Linked DNA regions of Homo sapiens: region 2 is linked to region 1. Evidence: fine-mapped expression QTL. A gene starts in region 1. The other region holds a variant in brackets. All regions are shown on one strand. Distances are from middle to middle.

Region 1 (5,368 bases):
GCAGTCCAGCCTCTCCAATGACCTCCAGCCTCCCCCACCCAGGCAGGAGGGAGGGCTGTGCAGGGCTCGGGGCAGTGGGACCTGGTGGCTCTGCTCTGACCACGAGGCGCCTGACTGGCCAATACTTACTGGGCTGACATTCCCAGTGCTCAGCTGGGAGGCATGGGTTTCCGCCCCCCCTCCCCACTTCCCTGGCTGTGGGCTGGCTTGGTGCCCTCCAGTGAGTCCCTCAGCCTCTCCACCCATCCAGGCTGAGTATGTGGCTTTCCTATGCTGGGTCCCTCTCCATGGGACAGGGAGCATTTAAGGCGAATCTCTTAGCCAGACATAGTCAGGAGGCACAGAGTAGAATCCCCTGTCTTCTCTACCAGGAGCCTGAGGTGAAAGATGTCCCGTCTCCTCCATCCTCCCGCTCCATCCACCCAGGTACAGGAAGGTATAGTATGAGTAGGAAAAGGAGACCAGCTGACCAGCCCATCCATCCCCTCCAAATGTTGCTTCCCCCTTAAAACGGAGGAAGGGCCCTGGGCTCTCAGGCACCAGGTAGACTTTGGAACCTGTGTTTTCGGTGACTGTCCCGGAGGAGAGGATGTGGGGTACCAGGATGGTTCCCTTCAGGTCACCCCAAGCCCTTCTCCCCGGAGCCAGGGAGAGGAGCATGTCACCAGGATCCTCGCCTGGGGTGGGCGGGGGGTGTGACCATTTCCTTCGCCAGCCCGCAGCCCTGGGGCCCTCAGGACCTCTCTCTCTTCCACCTTTCCCAGGCTCCACAACCAGCTCAGGTTTAAACCAAATCAAAGAGCAAACAAGTTCCGTTGGAAAGTTTGAAGATTCCCTGGCAGTTCTCATTAGTTCAGCATTCCCGAAGTGTCCCCTGTTTGGAGGCAGAGGGGAAGCTGAGGAATTGAAGGAGAATCCACTTGTGGTTGCTATCGTCCCACCAGGACAGCTGGCTCCTCCGGAGAAGCTGGAGACTCAGGTGGTACTCCCCCTTCCCTCCAACACATTCCAGGTCCGCCTGCCACATTCTGCAGGGAGAGGGCAGAGGGAGGGGCCTGTCCGCCCTCTTTCCCCCCAGAGCTACAGGACTCTCTCCTGGTTGGCTTCTTGTGCTTGTGCCATGTGCCACGGAGGAGAGGGGCCTGCGTCCCCTCTCCCGACCCATGCCCTTTGCGCCCTTTACCCCTTAAAGCGGGGCATCGTACTGGTCCAGGAACTCCCGAATGGGCCCCGGCAGCTGGGTGACTTTCTCATAGGAGTCCAGGTGGCCGTTGACGGTCTTCCGACAGAGATGCTGAAGAGTGGCCACGTTGGAGGAGAGGGGCCGGCTCAACACCAGGGGGATCTTCTCGCCCCCGGAGTAGATGTAATAGGCTCTTCTGGGGGGACTCCCAGGGAGTGGCTGGGCAGACGGCTGCTCGGGCACCTCGGAGGAGGGTTCAGTAGGTGGCGAGGGGAAGGAGGGGGCTCCAGGGGGCGGCATGTAGTGGTGCACCAGCTTGAGCACGCAGTCGAAGCGGGGCACGGGCTGCGTGCTCCGGGGATCGCTCTGCAGAGAGAAGCTGCCCCCCTCACACTGGATGCGCAGGTTCTTGGTCCCAGACTGGGTCTTGACGCTGAGCGTGAAGAAGTGGCGCTGGTCCGAGCTGTCGCGGATCAGAAAGGTGCCGGCGGGCTCGGCACTGAGCAGCAGGTTCGCCTCGCCGCCGGTCACTGCGCTCCAGTAGAAGCCGCTCTCCTGCAGCTTGCGCACTGCGTTCACCACCAGCTGGTACTCGCTCTTGGAGCTGAAGGTCTTGAGGCGCAGGCTGGTGTCCAGGGGGCGGCTCATCCCGGCGGCGGGAAACTTGCTGTGGGTGACCATGGCGCACGGAGCCAGCGTGGATCTGCGCGGCGGCGGCTGCAGCTGCTTCGCGGCCTCCGCACAGCGGCCGCTACCGCATCCCGGGGGGCTGCGGAGAGGAAGGCGCGAGCGCGTTGAGTGCCCGGAACCCTCCAGCGCGCCCGGCCCGCCCCGGCTCCCCTGCCTTCGCCGAGCGACTGGGGCACCCACTGCCCCGGGGGCCCTCTCCTGGGCCCGCGCTCCGATCCAGGCGCCTCACGGAGCCCGCACGGCTCCCGCCCCTGCCGGCAGGGTGGCCCCGGGCAGCCCCTTCCCAGGCGCGCACTGCAAGGGCGCAGCGTGGGAAACTCGCGCGCGGAAGTTAGGTCTCCAGGAGTGTGGCCGGGTGGGGAGCAGGAGAAGGGCCCCCGGGACTGCCTGGGCGCCGCTCAGTCCAGTAGCCCCGGGCGGTGTGGACGGAGGGAGAAACCCGAGGCACGGGGGTAGGGAGGGGACAGGAGAAGCCCGAAGGCCCCAGCCGGAGTATTCCGGGAACCTGGGATCTCCGGCTTCCATCCGCTCTGCCCCTACCTCGTCACCTCCCTGCCGGGAATGACCCGGGAAGGGGAGGGGAAACCGGGAAAAGCTCCCGGGACTGAGCGAGACCCCTCCCCACGCCGCGCTCCTCCTTCCTACCTGGTCCCGAATCGAAGTCTCCGTCCTTGGGGCTGAGCCCCCTCGGGTCCCCAAGGCGACGCGGCGGCGAGACGGCCAGCGGTGGCCCGCGCTGCGCCCAGATGTTGGCGGCCGTGAAGTCCACAAAGGAGCCTTCGCGCGCGCGTCCCTCGAGCTTCCCCTGGGCGCCCGCCCTGCCCCCTGCGCACCCCCGGACCAACCGGGAGGGGACCAGGAGAGGGACCGCGGCAAGGGGCCGCGGCGGGAGCTGGGCCGGGCGGGCGGCTGGCGGCTGGCTGCGTGCGGGGCCGAAGCGGCAGCAGCGGAGCAGGGAGTCCAAGTCGGAGCCGCCGCGGAGGCCGCGCTCGCGGGTATATAGGCGGCCGCCGCGCCCCGCCCCCCGATTCCTGGAACTGCGCGGCCGGCCTTCTTGTAATGTTTAGTCACTACTCGCAGCAGAGAAAGGCTGAGCGCGGAGGGTGAGGGAGGGGCCGCGGGCGCCGAGGGCGGGCCGCGAGCAGGGGCAGGGACCGGGAGGGACGCGCGCGGAGACAAAGCGCGACGAGAGGCGGCCGAGGCGGCCGGTGGGCGCGGCGCCAGCCCCGGCGGCGCGTTCCTGGCAGCGGCCCCTCCCCGCCGCGCGCTCCGCCCCCAACTTCTCATTCACACTTTCCCCCCACCCCCCTCCCTTCTAAGAAGGCTGATTTCTGGCAGAGGCGGGGGCGCCGCTTCGGGAGAGCGGGCAGTTCTAGGAGGCCGACCTGGAGAGCCTCCCGGTTCCCCTTCCCCTTTTCCCGGACCCCGCGGGGACACCCCCTCGCCGCCACCCGGGCCTCCCCGAGGGCCCAACTGCGGGTCAGGCGGCCCGGGCCAGCCGAAAGGGAAGTGGGGCTACCCCACAGCCAGGCAGCGGGGCTGGGGTCAGACCCGGGAGCCGGAGGTTGGAGACGTGCGACAGTCACCTGCGGGCAGATTCCAGAGGGGAGACCCAGGGCTGCAGGGGACGCCCCTTCGTGGCAGCTACCCAGCCTCGGCCCACTGCCAGGTTCTTTGCCAACCCTGACGCGAGTGTGGAGCCCCCCTCCCCTCCCCTATGAAAACGCTTTCATGCACTGGGGTCTGCAAACCTGGTTGGTCCGGTGTGGGTTGGGCCAGGTGCTCTCGGCCGGGCTGGAGAGCTCGAGGTGGAACGATGGCCCCAACCTACGGCCCGCGTCCGCCAGAGGGCGCCCTGGGGTCTCCTAGGGGAGGGCAGTTTGGTGCTGCGCGGCCCAGGCCTTGGAATAGGCACGCCAGGGATCTGCGGGAATGGCTGTCTCCGGAGCTGGAAAGGTGGCCGAGAAGGGGGCATTCACACCCCAGGCTGGGGTCAGACCTGGGAATAAAATTCTAGCAGGAGAGAATTTCCGGAAAGCAGTTTTCCGGGGTTCAGGCTACTGCCAGATGGCCCACACCCCCTGGAATGTGACCCCCTGCCTCTCTTGGGGTGGGGGAGGACTTGATCACTGGCGGGGAGGGGGTAGAGGGGAGGAGAGGAAGTGATTGAGGTGAAAGATTGGTTTGCTGCTGGTCACGTTGGCACTGACGTAGATAGTTTGGGCTTGGAGACCCGGGGCCAGCCTTATGAAGGATGGCAAGTTTTGTCATCTTGTCCCCAAATGGGCTGTGTGGTGCTGGGGACACCCGAGAGCTGCCTCAGTGGCATTTAGATTTTCACCTCTCGGGATGCAGACGCTGTGGGCCTGGGGCCCTGCGCTCTTCCTAGATACCAGGATAATGAGGTGCTGAAAGGGAAGGAAGAGACTGCCGCCAGGGACAGGGAGCTTGGGATGCCAGAACCCAGAACTGGCCCTTTTGCCGGCCCTGGAATTGATAGGTGCGCACTGCCTTTGCCACTGTATCCTCAGTCCGTGCCATCACCTCTCCCCAGCATGTGCTGGGGACTCAGTGAGATTTGGACAAGACACACAGTTTCTCTGGGCTTCCGTTTTGCCACCTGTAAAACTGGAGCCAGAACCTTTTCCTTCCCTTTGGCAGGCGGAGGCGAGAGGATCACTTGAGCATGGACATTCAAGACCAGCCTGGGCAGCAAAGTGAGCACCCCCATCTCTGCAAAAAATAGAAAAAAGTTAGCCAGGAGTGGTGGCCTGTGCCTGTAGTCCCAGCTGCTTGGGAGGCCAAGGTGGAAGGATCGCTTGAGTCAGGGAGGTCAAGGCTGCGGTGAGCCATGATCGTGCCACTGCACTTTAGTCTGGGCAACAGAGTGAGACCCTGTTAAAAAAAATAATAATAAAATGAAATAAAAAGGGCCGGGCATGGTGGCTCATGCCTGTAATCCCAGCACTTTGGGAGGCTGAGGCGGGTGGATCACGAGGTCAGGAGATCGAGACCATCCTGGCCAACATGGTGAAACCTCGTCTCTACTAAAAATACAAAAATTAGCTGAGTGTGGTGGCACATGCTTGTAATCCCAGCTACTTGAGAGGCTGAGGCAGGAGAATCGCTTGAACCAGGGAGTCAGAGGTTGTGGTGAGCCGAGATCGCGCCATTGCACTCCAACCTGGCGACAGAGCTCTGTCTCAAAAAAAAAAAAAAAAAAAAAAAGAAAGAAAGAAAGAAAAGAAAAGGAAGAAAGAAAAAGAACCTTTTGCCATAAGAGATTTGAAATTAAAAAAAAAAAAAGATTCTGCACATCAAAGCGTGATAGAAATAGAAGTAACCCAGTTAGTTCAACTCTCCCTCCAGCCTATCAGGAGAGCAGAGGAGGAAACTGGTTTATTCAACACATTTCACAAATATTGAGCTCCATGCACCAGGCACTGGGCTGGGCATTGATATATAATGATGAGTAGGACCTGGTCTTTGCCCTCA
Region 2 (5,368 bases), 390 kb after region 1:
TTAAGAAAATGCACACTCTCAGCAGCATTCTCTGGTATTTAGGAAGAGATCTGGGGAGACTCAAATACTGCACTGCGGTCCCAATCTTGAAGGATCTAGAGGTCAACATCTGCGGGGAGGAGGCACTGTCTGGGAGAGGCAGGACATTTTTAGAGAATACTATTCAGTGATTTTAGCATGTTCACAAAGTTATGCAACCACCACCACTATCTAATTCTAGAACATTTTCATCATCCCCAAAAGAAAACCCCATACCCCATAGGAGTCACCCCCATTCCCGCATCCCCAAACCCCTGACAACCACTAATCTACTTTCTGCCTCTACAGATTTGCCTAATACATGGCCTTGTGTGACTGGTTTCTTTCACCTGGCACAATGTTTTCTATGTTCAGCCATGTTGCAGCATGTGTCAGAACTTCATTCCTTTTTATGACTAAAGAATCTTCCCTTGTAGGGACAGACTTCATCTTCTTTACCCACTCATGAGCTGATGGCATCTGGTTGTTTCCACTTTGGGGTTCTTATGAAAACTGCTGCTATAAGCACGTAAAATTTTGTGTTGTATAGGATCTTTAAAACTATATCTATGTTCCACTTTGATTAAAATAAATTTCACAGTATTTTTGGCCCTTGAGCCCCTATGCTCGGGTCCACTCTCACACTGTGGAGTGTACTTTCATTTTCAATAAATCTCTGTTTTTGTTGCTTCATTCAAAAAAACAAAATAAAATAAATTTCACAATATTTTCTACTTTTCTGAACCCTACCCATTATTCAAAGTCCAGCTCTGCAGCCTCCTCCCATCACATGGCTCTCTCACTGTCCGCCACTGCACCCCACACACCGGAAACAAACTAAAGATGCTGACCCACATTTGTGGTAAGTTTCACCTCTAAACATTCTCTGATTCTGAGAGCTACGAGTCCTATCATCAAAAATGAAAACTCTATGGAACCAGCTTGGCGTGGTTTTACTGGATCACTGAGTAGTCATGCCAGGTGTCCCGTCAGCTGGTGTAAGTATTGATCATCCTGCTGTGTGATTAACAAATAGTTTCAACACAGTCCTGGGTCAAAGGAAAATGTTTACACATCCAACAGGCCCAGGTTACTGTAGGGGACAACAATGCCTAGGTTATCAGGAAAGCTCACTGTTTAACTGGATTCAAGGAATAAATTATAAGCACCAGCCATTTAATGATAAATACAATTGATCTTTCTAGTACTTTTATTACTTGAGAGAATACAGGAGAATTGTCTGAAGAAGGGGGTAAGGGAGATTATTCAATTAATTCATTGGGTTTTCTGTATACTTCTAAACCAAATTCAGTTAGGAATTTTTACCAAAAAATTCCAGCCTTAATTCAAGGATGTTTATGAAAGCAAAGTTCTCTGATCAAATAAGAGTAAGTAAAAACGGGTGGGCGGGAGGAGTGTGCTTGCTTTTGTCCCTTGTTGCTTTGGAGATCTACTTTGATACAGGAGCACTGCAGATCCCCTTCCTGTTTCCTTTGCTCTCCTGCCTTACTAATTATATATCACCCCTTCCTTGCAAAACCACAAGACCAAATGTTACAAGTTACAAAATTGGTGTACTCCACCCATCCTTTACTCAGCTGACACAGAGCAAACTGAACCAGCGCGGTCCTGCCACAGCCCTGAAGACGGAACCATCACATGACAGAGGAGCTTGCGAGAAGGGCCCAACACACCCACATACTGTGTGAGGCAGAGCAAAGGTGGCAGCAGTAAGACCACCAAGGTCAGCCAGTCCAAACTTCTTGATACCTGTTATTGATTTAAAAACAAACTAGGCCAGGCATAGTGGCTCAGACCTGTAATCCCAGCACTTTGGGAGGCCAAGGTGGGAGGATCACTTGAGCCCAAAAGTCTGAGACCAGCCAGCACTTTGGGAGGCGAAGGCAGGCAGATCACCTGTGGTCAGGAGTTCAAGACCAGCCTGGTCAACATGGCGAAACCCCGTCTCCACTAAAAATATAAAAATTAGCCAGGCATGGTGGTAGGCACCTGTAATCCCAGCTACTCGGGAGGCTGAGACAGGAGAATTGCTTGAACCCAGGAGTCAGAGGTTGCAGTGAGCAGAGATTGTGCCATTGCACCCCAGTCTGGGTGACAGATTGAGACTCCATCCCCCCTACAAAAAAAAATTTAAAAATTAGCCAAGTTTGGTGGGTGTGCCTGTGGTCCCAGCTACTCAGGAGATTGAGGTGGGAGGATTGCTTGAGCCCACAGGTCAAGGCTGCAGTAAGCTATGATCATGCCATTATATTCCAGCCTGGGTGACAAATTGAGATCCCTGTCTCAAAAAAATAATAATAACAAATAAAAATAAAAAAATAAAAAAAAACCTAACTAAGCAGAAACCATTGTTTAAAATCTAATTATCTTGCTTTAGAAGGCAGGTGGTTTCAGAAAAAAAGAACTCTAAAACAATCTATTTTTGAAGTGTTTTTTTCCCAAGATTTTCTCCAAGCTTTTACTTAATACATTGTTCAGATGTTTCTCTGCCCTAAAAAAAAAATTCCCTTACAGTTCAAAAAATATTCCTAACAGGTTTAGAAGCAGTCCTCAAATTGCAGAAACTACTATTACCCAAAGAAATACCAAGTGCTCCTAAAATAATACCACATACTTATTCCACAAAATATTTCTTAGCCTGCTCCCTCTGGGTCTGAAAAGGATAGCAAATCAATGGCCAGGGGGTGAGAATATGCTTCTCCACGTGCCCAGAAGGAAGGGAACATGAGATATGGGTGCACAGAGTGGCATCAGCTACGGGAAGCTCATGTGGCATCCAGGCAAGTAATTCAGTGGCCTCCACTAGCACATCAGCAGCAGAGATGCAGAAAAACAGATTACTTCAAGATGCGTTTTGGAAGTAGAATAAACCATACTACTAATGAACTGGATAGGCA[G/A]AACAAGAGAAAGGGAAGGCTGATATCAAAACATTCAAAACATTTGATGGGAACACCTATGTGAGCGGATATGCTATTTCTCAGGTGGGGTGAATAAAGAGGGACACAGCACCAGGGGCTCTGCTGTGGCCATGCCAACTGTGAGAGACCCTGTAGGTATCCCCCAGGAGATGTCAAATGTGGCACTGGGATGTCACAGCCTGAAGTTTAGGGGTAGGAAGAGGGCTAAGCTATAGCTGATTCTTGCTATTCAAAGTAGTTATTGTTTAAAAAGTTGTTGCTGTTGCCGGGCACAGTGGCTCATGCCTGTAATCCCAGCACTTTGGGAGGCCTAGGCGGGTGGATCACGAGGTCAGAGTTCGAGACCAGCCTGGCCAGCATGGTGAAACCCCATCTCTATGAAAAATACAAAAATTAGATGGGTGAGGTGGTGGGCGCCTGTAATCCCAGCTACAGCTACAGGCAGGGAGTATTGCTTGAACCCGGGAGGTGGAGGTTGCAGTGAGCCGAGATCACACCAATGCGCTCCAGACTGGGCGAGAGAGCGAGACTCCATCTCAAAAAAAAAAAAAACAAAAATAGTCATTGCTAACACTGAATTGGAAAAGACTAAACCGTTGCTCCTAGGGGAAATACAGGTTAGGTTCCTACAGACCTCTGGTCACACTTTTGTCAACTGAACAATACATAACCTTGTTTATATGGGTTTCTGTTTAAAGATGGCTTATTTAATATATATTGTTGTGTTTTGTTTTGTTTAAGACAGGGTCTCACTCTGTCACCCAGGCTGGAGTCCAGTGGTGACATCCTGGCTCACTGCAACCTCTACCTCCCAGACTCAAGCAATCCTCCCACCTTAGCCACCTGAATAGCTGGAACCATGGGCGCATGGCGGGGGGACATGGGCTCTATTTTTAGTAGACACAGGGTTTCGTCGTGTTGCCCAGGCTGGTCTCAAACCCCTGGGCTCAAGCAATCCACCTGCCTCAGCCTCCCACAGTGCTGGGATTACAGATGTGAGCCACCATGCCCAGCCAACTGTTGATTCATTAACATTGAACTCATGGCCAACAGCACTGTAACTCATTCCTGAGCAAAGCTTCGCTAACATACTATATTTTCTCCATAAGGCACATCATGGCCTCTTGTACTTAGGAACAATAGACAGAAATTCAGCATTATGATTAGGGGCTATTTTAAAGAGCAAGTCACCAGCAAAGGCACAAAAATACAAAAAAAAAAAAATGTAATGCTAAATAGACCACATAAAGGTCATTTGTTTACAGTATGAGGGCTGAAACAAGAAATCAGTCACCTTGTTTCACAGTGGCTGGAAATGTGTACACTGAGCAAACTGCATTTTTCACTGCTCTGTGAATGTCCAGAAATGACCACGAAAGGACTACCTTTGGACTGATTTGCGGGTTACAAATAAGCTTTAGTGAGTAGGAAAATTCATGAATACAAAATCCACAAATAACAAGGATTGACTGCATAAACGAAGAAGGAATCAGAGTACAGGTATCTCTCTGCTATTGGTTATATCAAATGATAATTTCATCTTTTTTGTTTTTTGTTTTGTTTTGAGACGGAGTCTCACTGTGTCACCCAGGCTGGAGTGCAGTGGCATGATCTCGGCTCACTGCAAACCCGGCTAATTGTTTTGTATTTTTAGTAGAGACAGGGTTTCACCATGTTGGCCAGGCTGGTTTCGAAACCCTGACCTCGAATGATCTGCCTGCCACGGCCTCCCAAAGTGCTGGGATAACAGGCGTGAGCCACCGCGCCCGGCCTCAAATGATAATTTCAAATAGTCTAGTTCAAAGATCCTATTACTGGGAAAGAAACGGAGAAATTTAACCTATTTTACTAATTTGCAACATATTTCCTAGATGTTTGAAATAAGGACTCCTCCATCTCCCTCTCTTCGCCAGTTACAAGGCTGATCATATGATCTCCATGTTCAGATTTCTTTTTCTATTTCTAGTAGGTTTAGAGCTTGTGAGGAAAAAGGGAAATGTTAGTTATTACTCTTTTCCACTGTAAAGGAGTTTTTTAATAAGCATTTTTATAGAGATTTTCATAGAAATTACCTTTAAAAAGTACCTAATTGGAGTAAAATCTCTACTATCAATAAAGAGTACCAGGGCTACAGGGATAAACAATGCTGCCGATCATCTCAGACAGGACAGAGAACTTCTTTTTTTTGAGACAGAGTCTTGCTCCGTCACCCAGGCTGGAGTGTAGTGGTGTGATCTCAGCTCACCACAACCTCCGTCTCCTGGGTTCAAGTGATTCTTCTGCCTCAGCTTCCCGAGTAACTGAGACTACAGGTGCGCGCCACCACGCACAGCTAATTTTTGTATTTTTAGTAGAGACAGGGTTTCATTATTGGCCAGGCTGGCCGCAAACTCCTGAGCTCATGATCCACC

Which allele goes with the higher level. Positions count from the first base shown, and alleles are read on the strand shown. Sizes are in standard deviations (SD) of each study's normalised expression.
For the expression in kidney cortex of the gene that starts at base 2,846 in region 1, A is the low allele of the variant in region 2 and G is the other (small effect, 0.35 SD a copy in GTEx).

The links. PIP is the estimated chance that this variant, and not a neighbour inherited with it, causes the effect.
Region 2: its variant is the best candidate, but not a certain one, in a credible set for the expression of SOCS3 in kidney cortex (GTEx, PIP 0.84).

What each region holds. Positions count from the first base shown.
Region 1 is chr17:78,357,232-78,362,599 of GRCh38, forward strand. SOCS3 (suppressor of cytokine signaling 3) reads right to left here and starts at 2,846. Exons shown (of 2, transcript NM_003955.5): 1 at 2,519-2,846; 2 at 1-1,952. The coding sequence starts at 1,864. The coding sequence ends at 1,187. It overlaps SOCS3-DT (SOCS3 divergent transcript), which reads left to right and starts at 3,217. Exons shown (of 5, transcript NR_110847.1): 1 at 3,217-3,542. RefSeq lists enhancers at 1-255, 2,202-2,850 and silencers at 1,958-2,197, 2,608-2,887, 2,898-3,207, 3,268-3,467, 3,698-3,747.
Region 2 is chr17:78,747,307-78,752,674 of GRCh38, forward strand. The region is part of intron 1 of CYTH1 (cytohesin 1); the gene reads right to left. Among named protein-coding and RNA genes, the nearest start is that of CYTH1, 32 kb to the right of the region's middle. RefSeq lists enhancers at 1,608-1,667, 1,728-1,797. The variant G/A (reference allele first, on the strand shown) is at 2,937.